2 linked regions of the Homo sapiens genome follow. The protein of the gene in region 2 interacts with the protein of the main gene of each other region in a biochemical or structural test. Each region holds a gene or a part of one and is shown on either strand. Other genes may lie near its edges.

What was found. The genes of interacting proteins can lie anywhere in the genome.
Region 1: of the proteins of LZTR1 (region 2) and NRAS, one has a biochemical effect on the other in vitro, tested with the Homo sapiens proteins (one study listed by BioGRID).

What each region holds. Positions count from the first base shown.
Region 1 is NC_000001.11:114,703,233-114,707,835, forward strand, and holds the end of NRAS (GTPase NRas), read right to left. Parts: 3' UTR 1,237-4,603; downstream 1-1,236. UniProt on the Homo sapiens protein: Ras proteins bind GDP/GTP and possess intrinsic GTPase activity.
Region 2 is NC_000022.11:20,988,797-20,992,296, reverse strand, and holds part of LZTR1 (leucine-zipper-like transcriptional regulator 1), read right to left. Parts: coding exon 3,425-3,500; intron 2,673-3,424; coding exon 2,615-2,672; intron 1,912-2,614; coding exon 1,772-1,911; intron 670-1,771; coding exon 468-669; intron 84-467; coding exon 1-83. UniProt on the Homo sapiens protein: Substrate-specific adapter of a BCR (BTB-CUL3-RBX1) E3 ubiquitin-protein ligase complex that mediates ubiquitination of Ras (K-Ras/KRAS, N-Ras/NRAS and H-Ras/HRAS).

The DNA.
Region 1 (4,603 bases), on a different chromosome or scaffold from region 2:
TGGAAAGAATATTTCTATTTTGTATGTTCCTGAAGTTCCAGCTGTCTTTTATTAAGGTAAAGGGTCACATTTCACTGCCCAGTTACTTTTAAAAGCATTACAAAGCATACCCTTCCCACTTGGAAACTGGACAGTGATTCTCTCTGTGCTCTCATGGAGCTGGACATCCTCAGACAGTTTTGCGAAATGATCACTAGCAAGGCCTCTTGGCCTCTTCTCATGTATTTATGGGTATCAAATAACTCATGCAACTATGTTGGCCTTTCAGTGACCTTAAATATTGCTTATGAGAACAGAAACCTTAATAGCACAGAGATGCACAGGTGGTTCCCTCATATTCCAAATAAACAAGCTTCTTTAGGTACCTTCTCATTATTTGTTTCTGTAGCTTTATTTTGCTGAACAGAACAGCAGTTCTCACCAGAAAACATCCTTTCCTCTTTTCCGTTATTAGAGGGTCAAACATTAGAACAAATTTTTGTAAAATGTATATGAAAAAGAAATAGAACTGTGGACTTTGTATGTTTCTCTCTCAAACTATCACCTAGGTCTCTATATGAGGTGATAGTTTGAAAGATACAAATTCCCTAATTCTATTTCTTTTTCAAATACATTTTATAATTAAAATATTTACTCTTTCTAGTTGTCCTAGCTAGAAAAAATATTGTCATTTAAAATTGGTTTTCCCAAGCTTACTTCAGCCACATGTTAATGACCTACCTTCCCTGCCTCCTTTTCAAGAAAAAAAAGTGAAAAAAAATTTTGATGTCTTTGGTAGAGTAAACCAAGGTCTCCAAAATTAGTATTCCAGTGTTAGTTGAAAATGCCTAGGTTTGATATTATTCTTTTTAAAGTCTCCTTAAGGTTGGGAAATCTGATATATCCTAATTCAACTCTTCTATTTTGCAATTGAAGAAACTGGGCCGGCGTAGTAAAATTATATCGGGCCTCAAGTTCTCCAGCCCCTAGCATCAATGCTCCTCCACCTATACCAAGATGGCTAGATTGTGCAGTAATGCAAAAACGAGACAAAAGAGCTCCAATGGCATCTTAATGTATGCAAATCTGACAAATAGCTATGAATCATCCCCAAGGTAATACTTTAAAGCAGGCTTTGATATATTTGATGTTATGATGAAATGAGGAACTCAGATATTCCAACACTTCCAAATGTCACATCCAAAAGTTTGAAATTAATATTAGCATTCTATAAAGGCACTTCAGTGAATATAAGAATTATGACTAAGCCAAGAACTTCCAGTTTTTATTTTTTAAACATCATTTAACAAGAAAAAACATTCAACCAAATTAAAAAGAACTAGGTTGGATTAATTTACAATAAAATAATCAACTTAAAATATCGGCCCTTCCATTTAGGGCCAAGGAGGCCAATAGTTCCTGTTTAAACAGCAGAATTGCACAATTATTTTTACCTATATTTGATGGCACAAAAAAATAAAAGTCTTACAACTTCCACGGACATCCTCCCCTCCCTCCAGAGCAGAGTTCATACAATTCCATCTTAGGTCAGTACTCAGGCTTTTAAAAATCATCTTACGTTTTGAAATATAATACAACTACTCTGGTAACAAGAATACTTTTAAAACAATTCTTATAGAAAACAAATACCTTAGATAATTGTGTGGCACATTAGACTGCTCAAAGAAACAGCAAAGATGAAAAATAATGTACAAGAATTATAGTCCCTTGTTTATAGAAACCATCCAAATAAAATATTTTCCCTAATTTTCCTTGCTTCTTATAATTTATTAGCAGAGATGAATTACAAGAAGCAGAACGCACCATTTTTTGGTTCTTGGTTGTAGCTGCCAACTTAGGAGTTCATGACTATAAATATAAAGCAAATATGATTATGCTCACAAGCTCTGGAATGGTAAAAAAACCCCACATATCTCTAAAGTGTTTCTCTATCCTTGCTTTCAAGTCATGACAAAAAAATTCACAGCAGTTTAAAGGATGGTGAAAGACTAAACATGGGCCCACTAAAATAGAGATTAATTTTACCTATTACACTCCTATAGTAAAAATTGTAATAAGTATGATATTGTATTAAGTAACATTCTATAGTAAGCCGTTGGAGCAAATACAGCATTTAACAGGTTCATTTACAGATCCGGCATGGTAGCCTTCAGACAGAACATCTTATTTTCACTCTTGAACATGTAACCTTTAAAAAAACCAAAAGGAATATGTAATTTATGACAGCTGGCCAGGCACTTAATTTGGGGAAAGAGAAGGATTTTGAGGTAAACTAGAATTCTTTTCAGCAATCACAAACATAGCCTAAAAACCACGTTTTATACCACACTGAAGTTATTCAGCTTTTAACTATAAGTTTGTCACTCCTTTGTGCCAAAATTCACACCTAGGTGTAACTTTTTTTTTGGAGACAAGTCTCTCTTGTCACCCAGGCTGGAGTGCAGTGGCACGATCTCTGCTCACTGTAACCTCCACCTCCTGGGTTGAAGTGATTCTCCTGCCTCAGCCTCTCAAGTAGCTGGGACTACAGGCACGGGCCACCATGCCCGGCTAATTGTAACTTCTTAAGGTATTCAAAGAACATACTCAAGTCTGAATTTTGGCCCCATTTAGAAACTTCTGTGCTTAGAACATACTTGGAAAACTCTAAGTACATACATACAAGGGCTATTGGCACAAGAGCCCAAGATGAGTAACTATCTTTCTCCCTAATTTGACATCAAATTTAATAGATTTTTAAGAAAAAGAATCACTGCCAGTCACAGACATTTAAAAAAGAAATGACTGAGGTGATAAGCCTCAGGAAAATTACAGAGTAGCACTGCTCCAGAAGGAGCAGAAACAGAAAAGCAGAATTTCCATTTACAAATGATGACAGTACTGTGAAAGCTCCCAGAATTAGCAGTAAGAAGCACAACTCTGCAGGTTCATTATACTCTGGACACAGTATATGTTTCTTCTCTTCTGAATTTCAAGGTAATATGACATTTGCTTAATAAATGAAAATTCATAATATAGAAGATGGAGGACCTCAGTAAGTATTTAGATATTAAAGACAGGAACAAAGTGGCCATTTTGGAATTAGTCTTTTATCAAAAGTTATCCAAGTCTATTTTTCATGAGAATTACCAGGGTATTATCTGCAAATTAAAATGCCAAGCCTCCAAATCCTCATAGGTATCAATTAATTATATTTTCCATTCCTGTCTCAACAATTTCAACTTCCTGTTTTGAGCAAACTCATCAGCTTAGATTTATCAACATCTTGTTTTAAACCCTTCAAAGAACATTATGAATAAAGAGAATTTAAAACGTTTCTCAGCTGAGACATCCTCATTCTCAAATGAGAATATTGGCTTAATTTAGAGTTTCTACATGGCTAAAAGAAAAAAAAATGTTTAAATACGTGATACTGAGTTTTCCAGTCATGGTAAAGGGTTTGTGCTAACTGACCTCTTCTTTCCTTGCAGGGCTAACTGCAGCTACCTAGCAAAATTACTAGCTGGAGTTACTGGTGCAATGAGCAAATGCAGAAGAATTTCTTTCTCTGTGATGCTAACTGGATTGTTCAAGTTTTGAAACTGTGACCCTGGTCCATTAGCACCATGCTTTACTCAACTGAAATAATCAAGCCCCTATTGCTGTGGGGGAAGCTGTAGAGGGTGGGGTGAGAAGGGGATTGAAGGCAATTATATACATCATTAAGATACCATGATATACAGTGAAAATGTAATTTGTTAATATACTATATTTGAGGTTTGAAAATCACTGATCACAGCTATTAAATAACAATGCACCAAAGTTTTACAATATTTGAACATCTGCAAATGTAGAGCTTTCTGGTATGACACAAATTTGAATACAAATGGAAGTTCATTGAATATTAGGTTTATCAGTAAGCTAGGGGAAACAAATTACATACATTGTATAGGTAGTAACCTATGAAAAAAGTGGAGATTAGGTAAAAATTATTAAGTGAAATTATTCATGTGCTTTCAGTTTCATCTTTCTCCTGGGAAAGCCCCAAAACAGGCCTCTGGAAAACCAATTTCATACATGTACAAAATGGCATCTGCTCTCAAATAGATATAGCTTTCCTTCAATGGTAGATAAGTCACAGACGTATCTCAGACATTCATTTCATGCATAAGGATTTTTGAGACATCTATTCCACTGAAATATTATAAAGGAAGTCTACAAACCACTTCTAGGAAAAAGGCACTTCACTGTGAAAGTTGGATTTAATTACGTCAAAGTTGTGAAGACTAGGATAGACTCAAAATTCAGTATTCATTTTTGTATTTATGAATCTAGAGCAGATGCCAGTTTAGAGAATAGAGCCGATAACATTATAAACAAACCAAACAGCAATAATAACTATATTCTTGGCAAAACAGTAATTTATGACATTTCTCCAAAAATTAGCATAGTTCTAAGTTCAACAGTAAAAAGAAAAAAAAAATCACCAGCAGTTGCTACTTTAGAGCTCAAGACACTGTTTTCAATAGAATTTCACGTTTGCGGTTTGGTTCTCTGTTTCAGACATGAACTGCTTTTCAGATGAAAAACCTGGGGTGGCAGAGGTGTGTTTGTGCTGTGGAAG
Region 2 (3,500 bases):
TTGAAGCCAACCCGCTCCTCATAGGTCAGGGTGGGCACCTCCTCGGAAGCACAGGCTCGCTCGGGCACTTCAGCCCCACCAACCTGAAGAGGGGAGACACATGGGCATGAGACCAGTTGGCAAGGGCCAGGTAGGTGCCCAGAGACCCCCACCATCCTGGCCTTGAGAGTGGGTTCTGAAAGAAGGAAGAGCTGCATGGCCGTGGGCTTCCCAGGAAAGGTCTGCAGCACAGCAGCCCCATGCAGCCATGATGGGGTGTGAAGCGTTAACTACCTGCAGGCTGTGGGGTGAAGCTGGGGCTGGAGGCCGGGGCAGGTGTCCAGGGCTGAGGCCCAGGTGTCCTGGCCTTGCTCCTGGTAGCTGTCTGGAACCCCAGGGGGCCCCAAAGCTGTGAGGAGCTGGGTGGGAGCAGGGTAGGAGCTACTGGTGTCCAGCTGGCAGGTCAGGACACCCCTGGGCACCCTCACCTCGCTGTCGGAGCTGGGCTGGACGACCTCCCAGGTCTGGAAGTCCACGTCATAGCAGTGCAGCTCGTTGGGCAGCGTGTTGTCGGCCGCACCCCCAAACACATAGAGGTGGCGGTCAAAGGCCACCATGGTATGCCCGTAGCGCCGCTGCGGGGGTGGTGGGGAGCCCCGGAGCAGGTGTTCAGTTGGGATGCGTGTCCACCTGGGGGTACACAACAGTGAATCAATGCTGGGACAGGGGCTCCTGCTCACCCTCGGGGCCTCCCCACAGCAGGCCTTCACTGGGAGGTCCCCCTGCATCCCTTACGGTGACTAGCCCAGGGTCCAGAGGGAGGGCCTAGACACCTGCGCTGAGCACCTCTCACCCCATCCAGCACGGGCACCAGCCCTGCCTGGCTCCATGTGGCCCACCGCAGGGTCCTGCCAGAGCTCCCCCCTCTCCCCATGGAGCAGGCAGCAGTGATGGGCAGGAGGGTGGCATCTGACCCGCCCAGGCAGTCCTGCTCTCTGGGGAGTAAAGTTGTGCAGAGACCATTGCAGGTCACTGTGTTCACGCTGCCCAGTCAGAGCATCCCCACAGCTGAGTCCCCATCCTGGGAGCTGCCTGTACCCCACATCCTGATGCTGCCCCAGCACCTTCCACCTCCCAGGCTTCCCAGTACCTCCCAGCAAGTCCTCTCTTTTGCTAAGTTAGCTGAAGACTTCAGAACAGATCCTGGCCTGGCAGGGCTATGCCATCTGGCTCCATGCTGAGCCCCAGGCCCTTGACAATTTCCCTCATCCTGGGGCTCCCTGCCCTTCCTCCCACGCACCCGTGGCCTCCAGGGAAGCTCCCAAGTCCCTTCCCAAACCCCCTGTACCTGCAGCTCACACTCCTTGTGCCCTCTCCTGCAGCCCCATTGCAGGGATCAAGGGCTGGCCAGCAGCCAGGGGCAGCATGGGCCAGACCTCTCAGGACCTGCAGGCCCCTCTGGTCTTCTGCCATTATTTGAGATCTATGCAGGCCACGTCTGTTACTGGTGGCACTGACCAAGCTATTCACGAGGAAGGGGACGTCCTTCACGTTCAGAGGGAGGCCTAGCCAGGGGCCTCCTCGCCAGGCCTTATCTTGCTAAGCTGTAGCCATATCCTGGGGACCTGCCAGGGGCACCGCACATCCCTGCTCCGGGCTGTAACCTCCTGCTGTTTGCAGAGCTCACAAGGATGGTTACCATGGCCACCAGGTGCAAGAGGCGTTCTTCATATTCAGAAGGATTCGAGGGAACTGACCGTCCTCCCTCCACCCCACTGGCCAGAGTACTCACGTCTTGTCCTTGAATTCAAACTGGAAGAGGTTGTTGGTTATTTTGGCTCCGCTTTGCCCAGAGAATACAAACATCTTGTCCCGGCACACAGCCACGGGGAAGTTGCAGCAAGATGGGGGGATCTCGCCACTCTGGGCCACCTGCAGGGGGAGAGGACAGCTCAGCCCCGGCCTCACAGGGCCCGCTCACATTTCACCACACTCGAGACTGCTGAGATGGGACTGCTTTTATTCTTGAAACTTCCCCAGATGAGGATTCACAGATTCCTTTGTCTTGGAACAGCTCATAGCCCTGTCTCATCCACTTCACGGGGCCCAGTTGTGAACAGCTGGGGTTAAAATCGTCAGGGTTAAATCATCAGGGGCTAAACTCATGTTTTTCATGCCCAGAAGACTGAAAAACAATTTTTTTTAATGAATAAATAAATAAATTCCATGTTTCTAAAGGGGAAAGCAAGCCCAGGGGGAGCTCCAGGGAGCAGGACACTGGATAGCAGACGGCCCTCACTGCACTGAAATAAAGGGTGCGTTAAAGCAAAACCACATCCTCACACACGTGGCACTCTGCCCATCCAAAGCACCAAACCTCGAATCACTGTGCAGCCACAGTGAGGAACTGGTCGTGAAGGCCCGCAGGTCACCAGGGAGGAGAGCGAGGCTCAGGTCGAGGCTGGGCTTTGCAAGGGGAAGAAAGCAGCCTCGACCCCCAGCCTGGCTCCCCCTGCCTCCCACCTCCCTCCACCTGCACCCTGTCTCCCCATGCCCCTCACCTCCTCCACCTGCGCCCTGGCTCCCCGTGCCCCTCACCTCCTCTACCTGCGCCCTGGCTCCCCACGCCCCTCACCTCCTCCCAGCAGGTGAGCTCTCGGTCCTGGAGGCCAATTGTCCACATGTCATTCAACCTGTATTAGGACAGACCAGTGAGGACCCCTTGGGTCTGGTGGTCAGGGTGGGCCTAGTCCTGGCTGGAAGGGATGGCTGCAGGGAGGAGCCCCACCCCCACACAGGGTAGGAGACTTGTGCGGCCATGAGGCGGGAACTTCTGTGTGGGGTGGCAGCCACTGCCTCAAATCCCTGCTGTGCCAGGCCCCCTGCCCGGCCCAGACAGAACAAGTACTCTCATGCATGACATCAGGGCAGTGTGGCAGTGCCAGCTCCTCACTCAGTGTCCCTCCTGGGTGGGGAGAGGACACAGATATCCCAGATGCCACCATCACTGCATCGTTAGGAGTTTCTATGATGCTGAAGTTTTGGGAAACCAGCATATGCTACTTTTGTGATCAGAAAAAGAGAGCAAAGCCAACTTTCTAAAATAAGGAGGAAAAGGCCTTTGGCCTGGGCAAGAACCAGGGCTGGGCCTGAGCCTGGGCACCGCCCACCCGCCCACCAACTCAGCTCCGCAGGGCAACTCCTGGCTGAGGATCCTCATCCAAGCTACTCTGGTAGCCACGGGGCTCCACCCAGTGGCCCTCACCTCCATCTGTCCATCCTCCTCTTTCCCCATCCCCCTCCCAAGAAACCCCCAGACAGAGTGGCACTCAAAATCCACCAGGCACTCAAAATCCTCCCAGCCTAAGCCCTCAAATGCCAGGACGGCCTGCTCCGGGTCTCAGTGCTGTCGGAGGTGGGGTGCACAGGCCGGACCACCACCCACCTGGCGTTGCCGTCATAGCCAGCAAAGATCCACAGCTTGTCACTGTACACCGTGGCCCCATGGGCTGACCTAGCGA